2 linked regions of the Homo sapiens genome follow. The protein of the gene in region 1 purifies or fractionates together with the protein of each later gene. This does not show direct contact. Each region holds a gene or a part of one and is shown on either strand. Other genes may lie near its edges.

What was found.
Region 2: the proteins of POLE2 (region 1) and CYP4F12 purify together in Homo sapiens (affinity purification with mass spectrometry; 2 studies listed by BioGRID and IntAct, with this or other methods). This does not show direct contact.

What each region holds. Positions count from the first base shown.
Region 1 is NC_000014.9:49,677,742-49,685,905, reverse strand, and holds part of POLE2 (DNA polymerase epsilon subunit 2), read left to right. Parts: intron 1-2,212; coding exon 2,213-2,313; intron 2,314-6,105; coding exon 6,106-6,181; coding exon of another isoform or gene 6,182-6,185; intron 6,186-7,396; exon of another isoform or gene 7,397-7,598; intron 7,599-7,925; exon of another isoform or gene 7,926-8,164. UniProt on the Homo sapiens protein: Accessory component of the DNA polymerase epsilon complex. Participates in DNA repair and in chromosomal DNA replication.
Region 2 is NC_000019.10:15,682,439-15,690,602, forward strand, and holds part of CYP4F12 (cytochrome P450 4F12), read left to right. Parts: coding exon 1-72; intron 73-1,054; coding exon 1,055-1,325; intron 1,326-2,377; coding exon 2,378-2,444; intron 2,445-2,629; coding exon 2,630-2,759; intron 2,760-8,164. UniProt on the Homo sapiens protein: A cytochrome P450 monooxygenase involved in the metabolism of endogenous polyunsaturated fatty acids (PUFAs).

The sequences.
Region 1 (8,164 bases):
CCTGTAATCCCAGCACTTTGGGAGGCTGAGGTGGGCGGATCACGAGGTCAGGAATTCGAGACCGGCCTGACCAACATGATGAAACCCTGTCTCTACTAAAAATACAAAAAAAAAAACCAACCAGCCAGACGTGGTGATGTGCACCTGTAACCCCAGCTACTCAGGAGGCTGAGGCAAGAGAATCGCTTGAACCCGGGAGGTGAAGGTTGCAGTGAGCCAAGATTACGCCACTGCACTTCAGCCTGGGTAAGAGAGCGAGACTCCATCTCAAAAAAGAAAGAAAGAAAAAAAAGAAAGAACAGGACCTGACTAGGTGGAGAGAAGAGTGGGAGGAAATGGCCATATAAAGACCCTAAAGCAGGAGAGTGCCAGGAAGGCCAGGGACATGGTATGAGCTTAATGGGATTTGGCAGGGGCAAGATTCTGTATGGCTTTACAGGCTTTGGTCTATGCTAAGAACTGTCCCAAGATGCAACCAAAATGTATATGATTTTAGGGACTCAGTGGTCAAATATTTATGGACCACCTTCAAGTGTATTTAGAACTCTGTGGAAGGATGGCACAGAGTTCTAAGTTACAGTTTTAAAGTTATCTATAATTCAGTTCTCAGTTATCTATAATAAATTTGAGAGATGCAACACCTACACACAAAACAACTAATAAAGCAACCCAATATATAGAACAATTAGTGTTATGGCTATAACAATAATATGTGAAATGTTAAATTGTGTGCTACAAATACAGAATGGCATGTAATTAGCTAATTGTTTAATATTGTAATCAGCAATAATATTGATGTGAGGTATAAAGTGTGCTACAAATACAGAATGGCATGTAGTGGCATGTAACTAGTTAATCATGTTCATTCTGATCATTGTTGGGATTTAGGTAAGGAATTAATGTGATTTTATTTTATTTATTTATTTTTTTTGAGATGGAGTTTCTCTGTTGCCCAGGCTGGAGTGTAGTGGCCCGATCTCCGCTCACTGCAAGCTCCGCCTCTCAGGTTCACTCCGTTCTCCCTCCTCAGCCTCCCAAGTAGCTGGGACTACCGGCGCCCGCCACCATGCCTGGCTAATTTTGTTTTTGTATTTTTAGTAGAGATGGTGTTTCACCGTGGTAGCCAGGATGGTTTCGATCTCCTGACCTCGTGATCTGCCCGTCTTGGCCTCCCAAAGTGCTGGGATTACAGGCGTGAGCCACCGCGTGCCCAGCCATGATTTTTTTTTTTTTTTTTTTTTTTTAATGATGGTCAGACTCCATGAAGCAGGTGGCAGTGCCTTACCATATGTGTATTGTCAGGCCCGAGGGCCTCTTCCATCTTTGTCAAGTGGAGTGCCAACCTCTCCTTTCGTATAACACAAATTCATGTGATTTTAATGAGTGTTGCTTCTATGATTATATTCAAATGTCATAGTTTTTTAAAGCCTTTTTTTTTTTTGAGACGGAGTCTCGCTCTCTCGCCCAGGCTGGAGTGCAGTGGCGCGATCTCGGCTTACTGCAAGCTCTGCCTCCCGGGTTCACGCCATTCTCCTGCCTCAGTCTCCCGAGTATCTGGGACTACAGGCGCCCGCCACCATGCCCGGCTAAATTTTTTGTGTTTTTAGTAGAGACGGGGTTTCATCGTGTGTTAGCCAGAATGGTCTTGATCTCCTGACCTCATGATCCGCCCGCCTCGGCCTCCCAAAATGCTGGGATTACAGGCGTGAGCCACCGCGCACAGCCAAGCCTATTTTTTTTCTTATTTTACAATTGAAAACAGTGATTATTGGAATTTACTTTGAACAAGTGCATTATCAAATTAAATATATGAGTGTCTTATGTTCAGGATATGGTGCTTGACATTGAAACAGATGGACTCTTGCCTTAAATGTAGGGTAGTAAGTAATAAAAGGCTAATGTAATATATCAGATCTAAGGTATATGTAAATGTGATTTTTAACAATTTCAGAAGAAAGGGGAGATTGCAGCAGGTAGAGCTGGTCTAGGAAGCCTTCTTAGAGGAAGGATGTGATTTGAGGCTTTATGTTAGCAAGGCATAGGAGGATGATTTTGTTCAGAAAGCACAGGAAAGATAAAGTGCTACTTGAAGAGAGCAGTTAGTGGTTCTTCCTTTCAGTGCCAGATTGATGAGTATTTGCTGCTTTTTGGCAGAAAACTTTTAGCCTTTAATTACTAATGACCTGCCTCATTTTTCCTTTCCTTTTCTTAGTGAAGCTATTAAGTACCTCACAGAAGCTCTTCAGTCTATCAGTGAATTAGAGCTTGAAGATAAACTGGAAAAGATAATTAATGCAGTTGAGAAGCAACCCTGTAAGTAATATTTTCTGATAACTCCTAAATTGTTAATATAGTTCTGCATCTTCAGTTAGATGTATAGATTTAAATTGAAGTTGAGGCTTCACTATTAAGATGTCCCAGTGTTATAAGATGTATGCATGGTAGCATTTCTTCCCAAGGGGTAATACCTTTAGTTTATTTTAATTTTTTTTTCTTTCTTTTTTGGGATGGAGTCTCGCTCTGTTGCCCAGGCTGGAGTGCAATGGCGCTATCTTGGCTCACTGCAACCCCCACCTCCCGGGTTCAAGCAATTTTCTTGTCTCAGCCTCACGAGTAGGTGGGATTACAGGCACACACCTCCATGTCAGGCTAATTTTTTGTATTTTAGTAGAGATGGGGTTTCACTGTGTTGCTCAGCCTGGTCTCAAACTCCTGGGCTCACGCAGTCCACCTGCCTCGGCCTCCCAAAGTGCTAGGATTACAGGCGGGAGCCACCACACCCGGCCTTTTTTATTTTAACTGTTGATGACATCCAAACCCTTAGTTTAGTTGGAACCTCAGGATGATCCCCAAGGGCCCTTTTATAGTTCCTTTCCCCCAGTGGAGGTGTCACCACCATGTTTCCTGCACTTGGCTTCTGATTTTGATCTGGTCCTTTATGGTCACTTTGTCTCTCCTAGTGGCTATTACCATGTCTTATTTAAGTCATTAACTCCTAAATGTTTGGGAGGAAAAAAAGAAGAGTAAAGTAAACAGAGCTGACATCTCTTCTTGATTTCTTCAGGGATTTTTTTTTTTTAATAGAATGGCTAGTCATTTTAACTTAATTTTGTAAGTCTAAGTTAAAGGGCAGAGACAGTAACTTTTCAATAAAAAGCAATTCTACTAATGCACTGATAATGAATACACTAAACAGAGTTGGAAGGCATTTTACTGAAAGCAAACTGTAGAAAATAGACTTTTTTTTTTTTTTTTTTTTTTTTTTCCCTGAGAAGGAGTCTTGCACTGTCGCCCAGGCTGGAATGCAGTGGTGCTATTTCGGCTCACTGCATCCTCTGCCTCCTGGGTTCAAATGATTCTCCTGCCTCAGCCTCCCGAGTAGCTGGGATTACAGGTGTGCGCCACCATGCCTGGCTAATTTTTGTATTTTTAGTGGAGACGAGGTTTCACCATGTTGGCCAGGCTGGTCTCGAACCGCCAACTTCAGGTGATCGCCCACCTCGGCCTCCCAAAGTGCTGGGATTACAGGCGTGAGCCATTGTACCTGGTGAAAATAGACATTGATACAAAATTATATAACGCTTGTGATAAGAATAAGTGGGGCCAGGCATGGTGGCTAACACCTGTAATCCCAGCACTTTGGGAGGCCGAGGCTGGTGGGAACGCCTGAGTTCAGGAGTTCAAGGTCAGCCTGGACAACATGGCAAACCCTGTCTCTACTAAATATACAAAAATTAGCCAGGCATGGTGGCAGGCGCCTGTAATCCCAGCTCCTTGGGAGGCTGAGGCAGGAGAATCGCTTGAACCCGGGAGGCAGAGGTTGCAGTGAGCTGAGATTATGCCACTGCACTCCAGACTGGGTGACAGAGTGAGATTCCGTCTCAAAAAAAAAAAAAAAAAAGAATAAGTGGATTTCAAGAAAAGCACATTCTATAAAAGATGGTCATTTTTTTCTTGAGTATACCAAAGTTATGAAACATAAGGTGACCCAGGAAGGTAGAGGTTTGGGAACTCCTTCAAGGCATTTGCTTTCTACACACTGCTTCCCTCCTCTCCCTTTTTTTTTTTTTTTTTTGGTGAGAGCGGGACAGAGTCTCACTCTGTTGCCTAGGCTGGAGTGCAATGGCGCCATCTCGGTTCACTGCAATGGCGCCATCTCGGTTCACTGCAATGGCGCCATCTTGGTTCACTGCAGCCTCTGCCTCCCGGGTTCAAGCGATTCTTCTGTCCCAGCCTCCTGAGTAGCTGGGACTACAGGTGCGTGCCACCACACCAGGCTAATTTTTATATTTTTGGTAGAGACAGGGTTTCACCATATTGGTCAGGCTGGTGTTGAACTCCTGACCTCAGGTAATCCACCCACCTTGGCCTCCCAAAGTGCTGGGATTACGGGCGTGAGCCACCACACCTGGCCCCTCCTCTCTTTCTTCATGTTCTTTTTTGGAAAGTCACATCTGTTGAAACATGCCCAAAGAAGCTAGAATGGGGCCACCAATACATGAACTAAACCTCTGTTCCAGTTTTTTATGATTTGCAGTCCATTTCAGCCATATACTTCGGGGAGTTTTCTGAGACACCTCTCTATTCAACCTGTCAGTAAAACTGTATCAGCATGTTTCCTCTTGCCACTGCCACACTGCCATAGGGATTCAGGGACCTTTTTGTTAAATACTTAATACCACAAGCATGGGACTGGAAAGAAGAAATGCTCTTCCCCTTGGAAAAAAAGTCTGATATTTATAGCACCCTGAGGATAGAAGTGGGTATGGCTCACTGTCCACTTTATCTTAGCATAAAAGGCTGAGAAGTGCCGAGTTCACTCTTAATGTTATATAGATGCTAGTCACTTCAATTATATAGGAAGAAACATACTCCGTGATACAGGATAAATGGTTATTATATCTCATTTTCATTCCTAAAGGCAGAATTTTACATATACCTTTGCTTAAAAAATTCCTTTACAGTTGAACATTTAGAAACTGATACTTGTCTCACGCCTGTAATCGCAGCATTTTGGGAGGCTGAGGCGGGCGGATCACGAGGTCAGGAGATCGAGACCATCCTGGCTAACACAGTGAAACCCCGTCTCTACTAAAAATACAAAAAATTAGCTGACAGAGCGAGACTCCGTCTCAAAAAAAAAAAAAAGAAAATGATACTTGTCCCTGTGTACATTGATTTAAGATGGCACATGGTATTTTGCTTGACAACATATCAAAGTGATTAAAAGAGCCCCCACTGGAATCAGTCCTGGGTTTTTGTTGCTCTCTATCTCTTCTAGTTTTTGGGCAAAATTTTCAACCTCTTAAAGTTGTATTTTCCCTATCTATAAGATATGGGCATCTTAACATCAGTCTTACAGGACATCTACCCAGTGGAATAATACTTGTAAATAAAGTACTGAGGATGGTGCCACACATTTACTCAATGCTTAATAAGTGGTAGCTGCTATTGTTACTATCATGCTCATTGAAACTGAGCAGTTATGATGATAAAGTTATACTAATGTAACCTTATTAAAACTGGGAGCTTAGAGAATTTTTTTTTTTTTTGAGATAGTATCTCACTCTGTGTGGCCCAGGCTGGAGTGCCAGTGGCATGATCACAGCTCACTGCAGCCTCCACCTCCCTGGGCTCAGGTGATCCTCCCATCTTGGCCTCCTGAGTATCTGGGACTACAGGCATGTGCCACCACCCCCAGCTAAGTTTTATATTTTTTGTAGAGAAGGGGTTTCACCACGTTGTCTGGGCTGGTCTCAAACTCCTGGGCTCGAGCCATCCTCCTGCCTTGGCCTCCCAAAGTGTTAGGATTATAGGTGTGAGCCACCGACCCTAGCTCAGAAATGTTCTTATAACTAAACAGGGTTTAGAAAATTAAGGCATTTGACTGTATATTAAGGTATTGTAACTTTGAGTGTGGAAAATGAAGGTATTTGAGATAAGGCTTTTGTTATTGTTCTGACCTAACACTTTTTTTCTCCAAAAACTGTATAATGAGAATCTCAGTATTAATATTTGCAAATTATTTTTGGGAAAAGAGCTGTCTGTGGAAAGAACTATTTTTTTTTTTGTTTTTAAATTTTGACTTTGAAATTCTCTTTTCAGTGTCATCAAACATGATTGAACGATCTGTGGTGGAAGCAGCAGTCCAGGAATGCAGTCAGTCTGTTGATGAAACTATGTATGTGGGTACAGTTAACTTTTTTCCTCCTTGGAGGTGTTATTGAGCACTTATTTTTAATTATTGTCTTGGAAAATTATTAGTGATCAACGTTTCTACAGTGATTACTGTTGTTATTTCTGTGTGTCTTTTTAAATAATGGCTTTCTTTGCAAACCTCATTATTAAATGACTCATCTTTACTGGTTTTTCCTGGGATTTGAGGTTACAGTGTTGCTTGTACCATTCATTACTAACTTTTGCTGCCTACCCAACCGGTTGATCTGACTTTTTATTCTGTATGCTACAAATGAGTTGAATTGAAATGAATATTCAGAAGTATAATTTACTTTGCTCTTAGGAAAGTACCATGTCCAGAGAAGTTCAGCAACTTTACTTGGTCACATGGTGAATGGCAAATGAGGGTAGGACCTCAGTTTTGTGACTCCACTATGTCATGTTTTTAGGTTTAAGAATTTATATGGCAGTAATTCTTCTGGGTTTTATTTCTCTGAATATCCCTCTTTCCTCTTGATATGATACTTCTATACAAATTGATGGCATTTAACTGGAAGGAAAACACTGGGGAAAATGGGCTGAGAGACAGTTTTAACATTGCCACTTCTTTCCTATTTGGGGCAATGGAGATGATTGAAAGGAGTCATTATCTTTATTTTAGTCAGAAGTTATAATCTTCTCCCTGTCAGAACTTATAACTGCTAAAAAAAAAATAGAGAAATTGAGGATTTTTAATTTTACCCTTGCAAACTCATTTAAAATACTATAGTGTGACCAGATGCAGTGGCTTATGCCTGTAATCCCAGCACTTTGGGAGGCCAAGGTGGCTGGATCACTTGAGGTCAGGAGTTCAAGACCAGCCTGGCCAACATGGTGAAACCCATCTCTACTAAAAATACAAAAATTAGCTGGGCGGTAGTGGGGCGCACCTGTAATCCCAGCTACTTGGGAGGCTGAGACAGGAGAATTGCTTGAGCCTGCGAGGTGGTGGTTACAGTGAGCTGAGATCATACCACTGCACTCTAGTCTGGGCGACAGAGTGAGACTCTGTCTCAAAAAAAATACATAAAATAAATACTGGAGTATAATGAATGTTCCTAAAGCCATCAATAGAAATTCAAAATGATTGTACTGAAGTTTGATTATTATCCTAAAATAGACGTTACTCGTTGTTTACCCTAAAGTTACCTGTTATTTATTTATTTACTTATTTTCCCCCACACCAATCTGCATTCACTTTATTCTTCTGTTTATACATTCTCTTGCTCCCAGATTTGGAGGCAGAACGTAATATGAGCTCAACAGTCCTGCACAGAGCCATGTACCATATCGCATCAGTTTTCCTTTTCCCAACCCCTATTCCACCCCCACTCAGTAAAGCCCCTTGTCCAGGTGTTGCTCTTGGGGGTAAGAAAGCAGAAAAGCAGGCTGGGCGCAGTGGCTCATGCCCGTAATCCCAGCACTTTGGGAGGCCGAGGTGGGCAGATCACCTGAGGTCAGGAGTTCGAGACCAGCCTGGCCAACATACAGCAAAACCCCGTCTCTACTAAAAAATACAAAAATTAGCTGGGCATGGTGGTGCATGCCTGTAGTCCCAGCTATTTGGGAAGCTGAGGCAGGAGAATCGCTTGAACCCGGGAGGCGGAGGTTGCAGTGAGCCAAGATCGTGCCACTCTGCTCCAGCCTGGACAACAGAATGAGACTTGTCTCTCAAAAAAAAAAAAATAAAATAAATAAAATAAAATAAAGAAAGAATGGGTAGAGATTCCAGTGAGTGATGGGAGCCTCTTTCCAAGGCACAAGGCGCCACCTTCTCAATATGGCCACTGCTTTGTTCAGATTTGGGCAGTGTGCTGGCCAGGAGCTGGGGGCTGCAGTACCTCCAGCTGACTGAGGAGGCAAGCATTGTGAGGGTGCTGCTGCAGGTCCACAGTCATCATTGAGGCCAGGAGCTGCCACACTCCTGAAGAATGCGTGGGGCTTTGTG
Region 2 (8,164 bases), on another chromosome or scaffold:
TGAGCACATCAGCCTCATGACCTTGGACAGTCTACAGAAATGCATCTTCAGCTTTGACAGCCATTGTCAGGAGTGAGTTCCTTCCTAGGGCCTGGGATATGAATCCATGGACCAAAGGGAGAAAGTTGGGGAGGGAGGAATGAGCAAAGTAACCAGAAGTACCTTTCGGGAGGATTTGTATCATAGCTGTGCTTTGAAGGTCGAGGAAGAGGAGAAAGTGCTGTCTTTCCAGGTAGAAATATGTGTGTAAAAGCAAGAAGGTTAGGATGAGCCAAGCATGTGCAAGAGACAGTAGAAATGAGGTTGTGGAAGTAGGGGCTAGATATTAAGGGCACTGAAAATCAGGAAAAGTGGTATGAAGTTTATCAAGACATTTCCAGAGACCTTTTGTAGTTTCAGCTGATGATGGATGTGATAAGAGCTGAGCTGTGTGGGAAACTGATAGCCCACCACCACGCCCAGCTAATTTCTGTATTTTCAGTAGAGAGGGGGTTCACCATGTTGTCCAGGCTGGTCTCAAATTCCTGACCTCAGGTGATGTGCCCTCTTTGGCCTCAGAAAATGTTGGGATTACAGGCATGAGCCACTGTGCCCAGCTGCTTCTTCTTTCTTACAGGGTGAAAGAGAGAGGGAGAGAGAGAGAGACAGAGAGACAGAGAGAGAGAGAGAGAAAGAGAGAGAGAGTTGGTTATGCTGGGGGCTGGAGCAGGGCTGAACTGGAAGAGGATGAAGTCTGAGTTGTGTGGACAGTTTTGGTAAGGAAAATGATCAGTACTGCATACTGGATGGGAGACAGAGGAGAGAAGCATGGTGTCCAAGCTATACTCTAGGTGCCTAGGTGCATGGAGACAGCTCTCTCAGAGATAGGATGCAGGGAGAGAAGACAGTCTAGAGAGTCAGTCTCATGACTGATACCCACCATGTATCTCTAGGACCATCTATTTCTAGATACTCAGTTTCCTGATGGGAGGTAGCTCCTGGCTGCTGGTGGGAGGTGTTCCTGGGGCTTTGCATACGTTACATTGTTGCCTCCCTTTCTGCCCTTGCTCTGCAGGAGGCCCAGTGAATATATTGCCACCATCTTGGAGCTCAGTGCCCTTGTAGAGAAAAGAAGCCAGCATATCCTCCAGCACATGGACTTTCTGTATTACCTCTCCCATGACGGGCGGCGCTTCCACAGGGCCTGCCGCCTGGTGCATGACTTCACAGACGCTGTCATCCGGGAGCGGCGTCGCACCCTCCCCACTCAGGGTATTGATGATTTTTTCAAAGACAAAGCCAAGTCCAAGACTTTGGATTTCATTGATGTGCTTCTGCTGAGCAAGGTAGGTTTCTCTATGATCTGAATTTAGGTGAGAGAATAGAGCTTCATGTCAAATGTCAGGTGAAATAAATTGGTTTTGATCCAAAGGGCACTGGGAGCCATGGAAGATGCTTGAGAAAGGGAAGGTCACAGATAGGTTTTAGAGATGACTTTATTGCATGCAGCCCACAGGGCACTGCTAATTCTGAAACTGTGAGGAGCATGATATTTTATTCAACTTATAAGTTAGTGTGTTAGTCTTTCACATTTTTATGTGTATCTATATGTCTATGTCTTTGTCTATGTCTGTATCTATGATAAAAGATGCACCAAACCCCTGGATCACAGCAGCCCATTAATTATTTACAGCAGTAACAGCAGGTGGAGTAGGATGGTAGTGCTGGCTCCCCATTCCTAGGGCAACACAATGTTTTTACCTGTAAATGCACAAGAATTTGCACCAAGGAGAGGGGCCCCCACATTATGAGTATTATAGCTTATATAGGACAGCTAGCTCATATGCTCCTTCTTTATTACAGGGTGAAAGTTAGAGACAGAGAAAGAGAGAGAGAGAGAATGCTTTGTTCTGGCGTATAAACTACCCCTCTCCTGTGAGATGGCAATTTCTAGAGTTTTATAACCCAAATATCTTCTGGAAAGATAAGATTCTCTGGGTTTACCACTCTAGAATGTCAGCAAATATTTTTGGAGCAATACATAATTTCTAACCTCCAAGGCAAATTGCCATTCAAATATCCTGTACCCCAGGTTGCCAGTATCTTTTTCTCTGAAAGTCTGTATTATGCAGAAAAATGAAAATATTCGAGAACCATTGATTCCTGTCACCAGGGTCCAAAGAGGAGGCAAAGGATCTGGGGGAAGCCCTTGGAGTTGGGGCTTTGGTGATGGTGAACAAGAGAGATCTAGACGTGCAGAGTGCATTTGAGTTTCTGGAAGATCAGAGCTTCAGAGATTATCTCAGGTTAGACTCCGGAGTCTCAGAGATAGTATAATTTGTGTGTGTGTGTGTGTGTGTGTGTGTGTGTGTGTGTGTGTGTCTTGCTTTCTCTTCAGGATGAAGATGGGAAGGCATTGTCAGATGAGGATATAAGAGCAGAGGCTGACACCTTCATGTTTGGAGGTGAGGGTCCCAGTGTGGGACTACAGTGGAGACAGAGGTCCCTCCATCTCAGGATCCGGGTGGGTGGACCCTGGATCACTCCATTCTGCCCATCTTCCCCCTCCCTCCATCCTCCTGAGGGCCTCAATATCTGGGCGCTGTCCACCCTCCGGTGCTGAAGCCAAGCTTACCTGGCTGCTCCTCAGGCCATGACACCACGGCCAGTGGCCTCTCCTGGGTCCTGTACAACCTTGCGAGGCACCCAGAATACCAGGAGCGCTGCCGACAGGAGGTGCAAGAGCTTCTGAAGGACCGCGATCCTAAAGAGATTGAATGGTGAGTGCAAGTTCTTCTGGCCTGTTCCTGAGCCCATCATTGGTTCTGCTCCCCAAGTGAGGAGGGGTGGAGGAGTTGTTTTGTGGATTCTTCCACTATTGCTTAGTGGGTATAAAAGCAGAGGACCACAGGCAGGGCTTGATACCAAGCCTGGCTGTCAGGGGAAAAGTTGCAGGCCTTTAGGACCGAAAGACCCGGGCTGCTAAGAGAATTGGTGACAATGTGTGAGGACAGATAATGCTACTTTGCACATGTTCAGCAAATGAACTTCCCCTCCACTCTGTTTCTGTTCTCCCAGAAATATCAGTTTTTTCGAAAATCCTCACTTCTTGAATGTTTGCTCAGGTGGGGAGGGAGAAGTTGTTTTTGTCAATTCTTCCATTATTGCTTAGTAGTACTAGGAGCAGAGCACAGAGGCAGAACTTGGTATCCAACCTGGCTAGCAGGGGAAAGTTTTCAGACTTTTGGGACAGAGAGTCCTAGCCCGCTGAGAGAACTAAGGACAATATATGAAGGCAGACGATGACATCTAGACATGTTCAGTCAATGAATTTTCCCTTCACTCCTTTCTTGTTTACTCTGAATTATCATATTTTTTTCAAACATCTTTACTTCCTGAATGTTTACTCTTCTGTTCCCTAATTCCTACCCTCCGGTCCAGTCCAGGGAGTCCTAAGGGAGACCTGGGGGTAAAAGTCATCTATCTTTTGTCTAGAACACCTGCATCGTTCATCCATTCAGTCTTCATTCAGCAAACTCTTCCACATGCCTTTCCATTGCCAGTTCTGTTCCCACACCTTTCTGTGCTCTGGAGACCTGGAAAGAACCCTGCCTATGGATGTGTTTTCCAGGTACTCCCAGCCTAGTAGGAACAGTCCCCCACAAGACATTCCCAGTCCACATAGGCAAGGATGGAGTTGAGAGCAAGAGAAGCATGGCTGGGAGTACAGAAAGTGTGATAGAAAGTGTTTCAAGCCAGATCTGGTGGCTGTCGCTTGTGATACCAAGTACCGAGGAGGCTGAAGTGGGATAATCACTTGAGGTCAGGTTTAAGATCAACCTGGGCAATATAGAAAGAACCCATTTCTAAAAAAGTAAAAAACCAAAATAATAAAGTGCCTCAACTGAAACCCTGAATGGTGATCAGTAGGTGTTTGGATGCAGTAGTGCCCTAGGTCAAAAAGAAAGTCTGGGCAAAAATGCAAAAAGAGGGAGCAGGAGAGAGGGAGAAGAGGGAAAGAGAGGTTTGTGTGTCAGGGAAGGAGATGGTTATAAAGGGAGGGAGAAGTAAGAGGGAGGAAAAGTGAGGGAGAGCAAGATAAAGAGAGGAGGGAAGACAGAAGGAGACAGAGAGAGAATGAGAGAGAAAGGAACTGAGTTGTGATGAGATAATAACTATGGTAGTGAAAGCAGAGTCTGGCTGTGGAAAATATGGGAAAATGGTAATGGCTTCCATTTTAACCCAAAGGCAATGGGAAGCCATAACAAGTGGTTGAGCAGGGGAGGGGCAGGTCATATCTGGGCACCAGAAAGATCTTTTCAGAGCTACTGTGGAGAGAGGACCAGCTGTAGAATGAAGTCCCAGTGAAGACATTCTGGGACCTGAGCCAGGGCAGGGGCTGGGGATGGAGAGGAGGCAATGGACTGGACATGTGTTTTGGAGGCCGTGTCCTCCCGTCCAAGCCTTTGCTCAGCACAGCAGTCCTAAAAGGTGGCAACACTTTTTATGCTTTTAAAAACCAAGATATCAAGTAATACTGTGCACTTTGTAAACAAAAAAAAGTGTCTAAAACATTTATAAAAATGAGCTTTCCTCATGCCTGTAATCCCAGCACTTTGGAAGGCCGAGGCGGGCGGATCACGAGGTCAGGAGATCGAGACCATCCTGGCTAACACGGTGAAACCCCGTCTCTACTAAAAGTATAAAAAATTAGCCGGGCGTGATGGCAGGTGCCTGTAGTCCCAGCTACTCTGGAGGCTGAGGCAGGAGAATGGCGTGAACCCGGGTGGCGGAGCTTGCAGTGAGCTGAGATGGCACCATTGCACTCCAGCCTGGGCAACAGAGTGAGACTCTTTCTCAAAAAAAAAAAAAAAAGAGCTTCCTTCTTAACTGTCACCCTAGTAGTTTCTACCATCAATGGTTTTGTGTGTCCCTCCAGAAGATGGCTATCTTGATGCCCACTTTATAAGAACACAGACTTCTTCTATACAAATAAGAGTGTATAAAATAGACACAGTACTTTTTCCCAAGATGGTGGGTTGGAGGCAATGTCAGTGTGCCTCTCCCATGTGGAAGGACAGAATAGTGTGTAGAGATTCACAGTGTAAGCTTTCTTTTCCCAAGAAACAACACAGGGACTTAACAGGAAAACCAGAAGAATCCACAAACCCTTCAAAAGAAGCTACAGGCTGCATTCTACTCTGTGAGACAGGTGAAAAACTGTGAATCCTCAGAGTAAGAGGGGGAGAGACTGCTTCCTAGGTACACATCTTCACTGGGGAATCTGAAAATCCAGACCACAGGAGAAGGCCTTAACTCTATCCAGGGCTTGAACTGATTTAGGGAGTGGTAAGAAATATAAAAGTAGAAGCAGCAGCAGGAAGTCCCTTGCAGGCATTCACAATCTCCAGCATGGACTGAGGGAAGCCATTCCTTATTGTATCTCACAGGGGACCTTGGGGAAGTCAGACAACTAGCTCAGGTGAGGTCACAGGTTGAACGAAATGCCCAAATGAATTTCTTGATATAACCTCGAGTGGGGATGAACTCCCTTGACCAGAACCCGGGAGGCAAGCAGGAAGTGTGCTGCAGACAGGAGTTCAGAAGCTGGGTGCCTGGCCTTGGACAGGGACAAAAAAGGACATGGCCTGAAAGCATTGCTATTTCTGTGGGAAAAGCTTATGGCCTGGGGCAGGGCTGAGTTCTGTGCACAGACTGCCTGGATCTAAATCCAGTGCTATGAGTGGAACACTGCATGTGTGAGACCCACCTTGTGCCAACTGCATGGGAGCTAGATGAGGCTTACTGCCACCTGCTACTCTCCACTCCCTTGTCAAACTCTTCTGTGAGGCAGAGGCAGTTATACTCACCTCTGGATCATTACCCCAGTGACCTAAGAACCACCCTCTGACTCTCACAGGGCAAAACAAACAAACAAAAAAACAGTTGCAAAAAAAAAAAAATACCTAGGAATATACTTAACCAAGGAGGTTAAAGCTCTCTACAAGGAGAACTACAAAACAGTGCTGGACAAAACCATAGATGACACAAACCAATGAAAACACATCCCATGTTCATGGATTGGAAGAATCAATATTGTGAAAATGATCATAGTGCAAAGCAATCTACAGATTTAACGCAATGCCTATGAAAATACCTTCATCATTTTTCACACAACTGGGAAAAGCAATTCTAAAATTCATATGGAACCAAAACAGAGCCTGTGTAGTCAAAGCAATACCAAGCAAAAAGAAAAAATTTGGAGGCATCACATTACCGGACTTCAAATTACATTACAAGGCTACAATTACCAAAACAGCATGGTACTGGTATAAAAGTAGGCATTTAGATGAATGGAACAGAAAGGAGGACCCAGAAATAAAGCCAAATACTTACAGCCAACTGATCTTTGACAAAGCATACAAAAACATAAATTGGGGAAAGACACCCTATTCAATAAATGGTGCTGGGAAAACTGGACAGTCACATGTAGAAAAATGAAACTGCATCCCCATCTCTCACCTTGTACAAAAATCAAAGGCTTAAATCTAAGACAGAAACCATAACAATTTTATAAGATAACCTTGGAAAAACTCTTTTGGACATTGGCCTAGGCAAAGAATTCGTGACCAAGACCACAAAAGCAAATGCAACAAAACCAAAAATAAATCAGTGGAACTTAATTAAACTAAAAAGCTTCTGCACAACAAAATAATAATAATAATAATAGCCGACTTAACAGACAACCTACAGAGTGGGGGAAAATATTTGCAAACTATGCATCTGACAAAGGGCTAGTATCCAGAATCTACAAGGAACTCAAACAACTCAGCAAGGAAAAAAAACAAACAAACAATTAGTTCCATCAAAAAGTGGGCAAAGGGCATGAACAGATAATTCTCAAAAGAAGATACACAAACAGCCACGAAACATATGAAAAAATGCTCAACATCACTAATCATCAGGGATATGCAAATTAAAACCACAATGAGATACCATCTTGTTTCTACAAGAATGGCCATAATTAAAAAGTCAAAAAACAATAGATGTATGTTGTGGATGTATTGAAAAGTGAATGCTCATACACTGCTATGAAAATTAACATAACCTCTGTGGAAAACGATAAGGATATTCCTTAGCGAACTAAAAGTAAATCTACCATTCCATCCAGCAATCTCACTACTAGGTATCCACCCAAAGGAAAAGTGATTATATGAAAAAGACACATGCACATGCATGCTTATAGTAGCACAATTCACAATTGTAAAGGTACGGAACCAACCTAACTGCCCATTGACCAATGAGTGGATAAAGAAAATGTGGCATATATACACAATGGAATACTACTCAGTCATAAAAAGGAATGAAATAATGTCTTTTGCCGCAACTTGGATGGAGCTGGAGGCCATTATTCTAAGTGAAGTAACTCAAGAATAGAAAACCAAATACCATATATTTTCACCTATAAGTGGGAGCTAAGCTGTGAGGACACAAATACATACAGAGTGATATAATGAGCTTTGGAGACTCGGAGAGCAAGGTTGGGAGCCGGGTAAGGGAGAAAAGACTGCATATTGGGGACAGTATACACTGCATGGGTGATGGGTGCACTAAAACCTCAGAATTCACCACTATAGAAATCATCCATGTAACCAAACCACTTATATCCCAAATGCTATTGAAATAAAAGGAAGTAAAGAAGAGACAGATCTGCACATTAACAATATATCTTTGGGAGCTTTTCTTTTTCTAAAAATATGAGTTTTGGAAAATTAGTTCGTTTTTATTTTTAATTGGCAAATTTTAATTATATATGTTTATGGGGTGCAATGTGATATTATGATATATGTATACAACGTGGAATGATTAAGTCAATTTAATAAACATACCCGTCATCTCATATACTCATCATTTTTGTGGTGAGAATATTTGAAATTTGCTCTCTTAGCAATTTTGAGAAATTTATTATTATTAACTGTAGTCACCATGCATGCAATAGATCTCAAAACTTATTCCTTCTAACGGAAACTTGTACCCTTTGACCAATGTCTTTCCATTCTTTCTTCCTCCCTTCTCTGGTAACCACCATTCTCTTCTTGGTTTCTATGATTTCTGTGTTAATTATTTCAGATCTCACAGTTAATTAAGGTTATGTGCTGTTTGTCTCTTTGTGCCTGGCTCATTT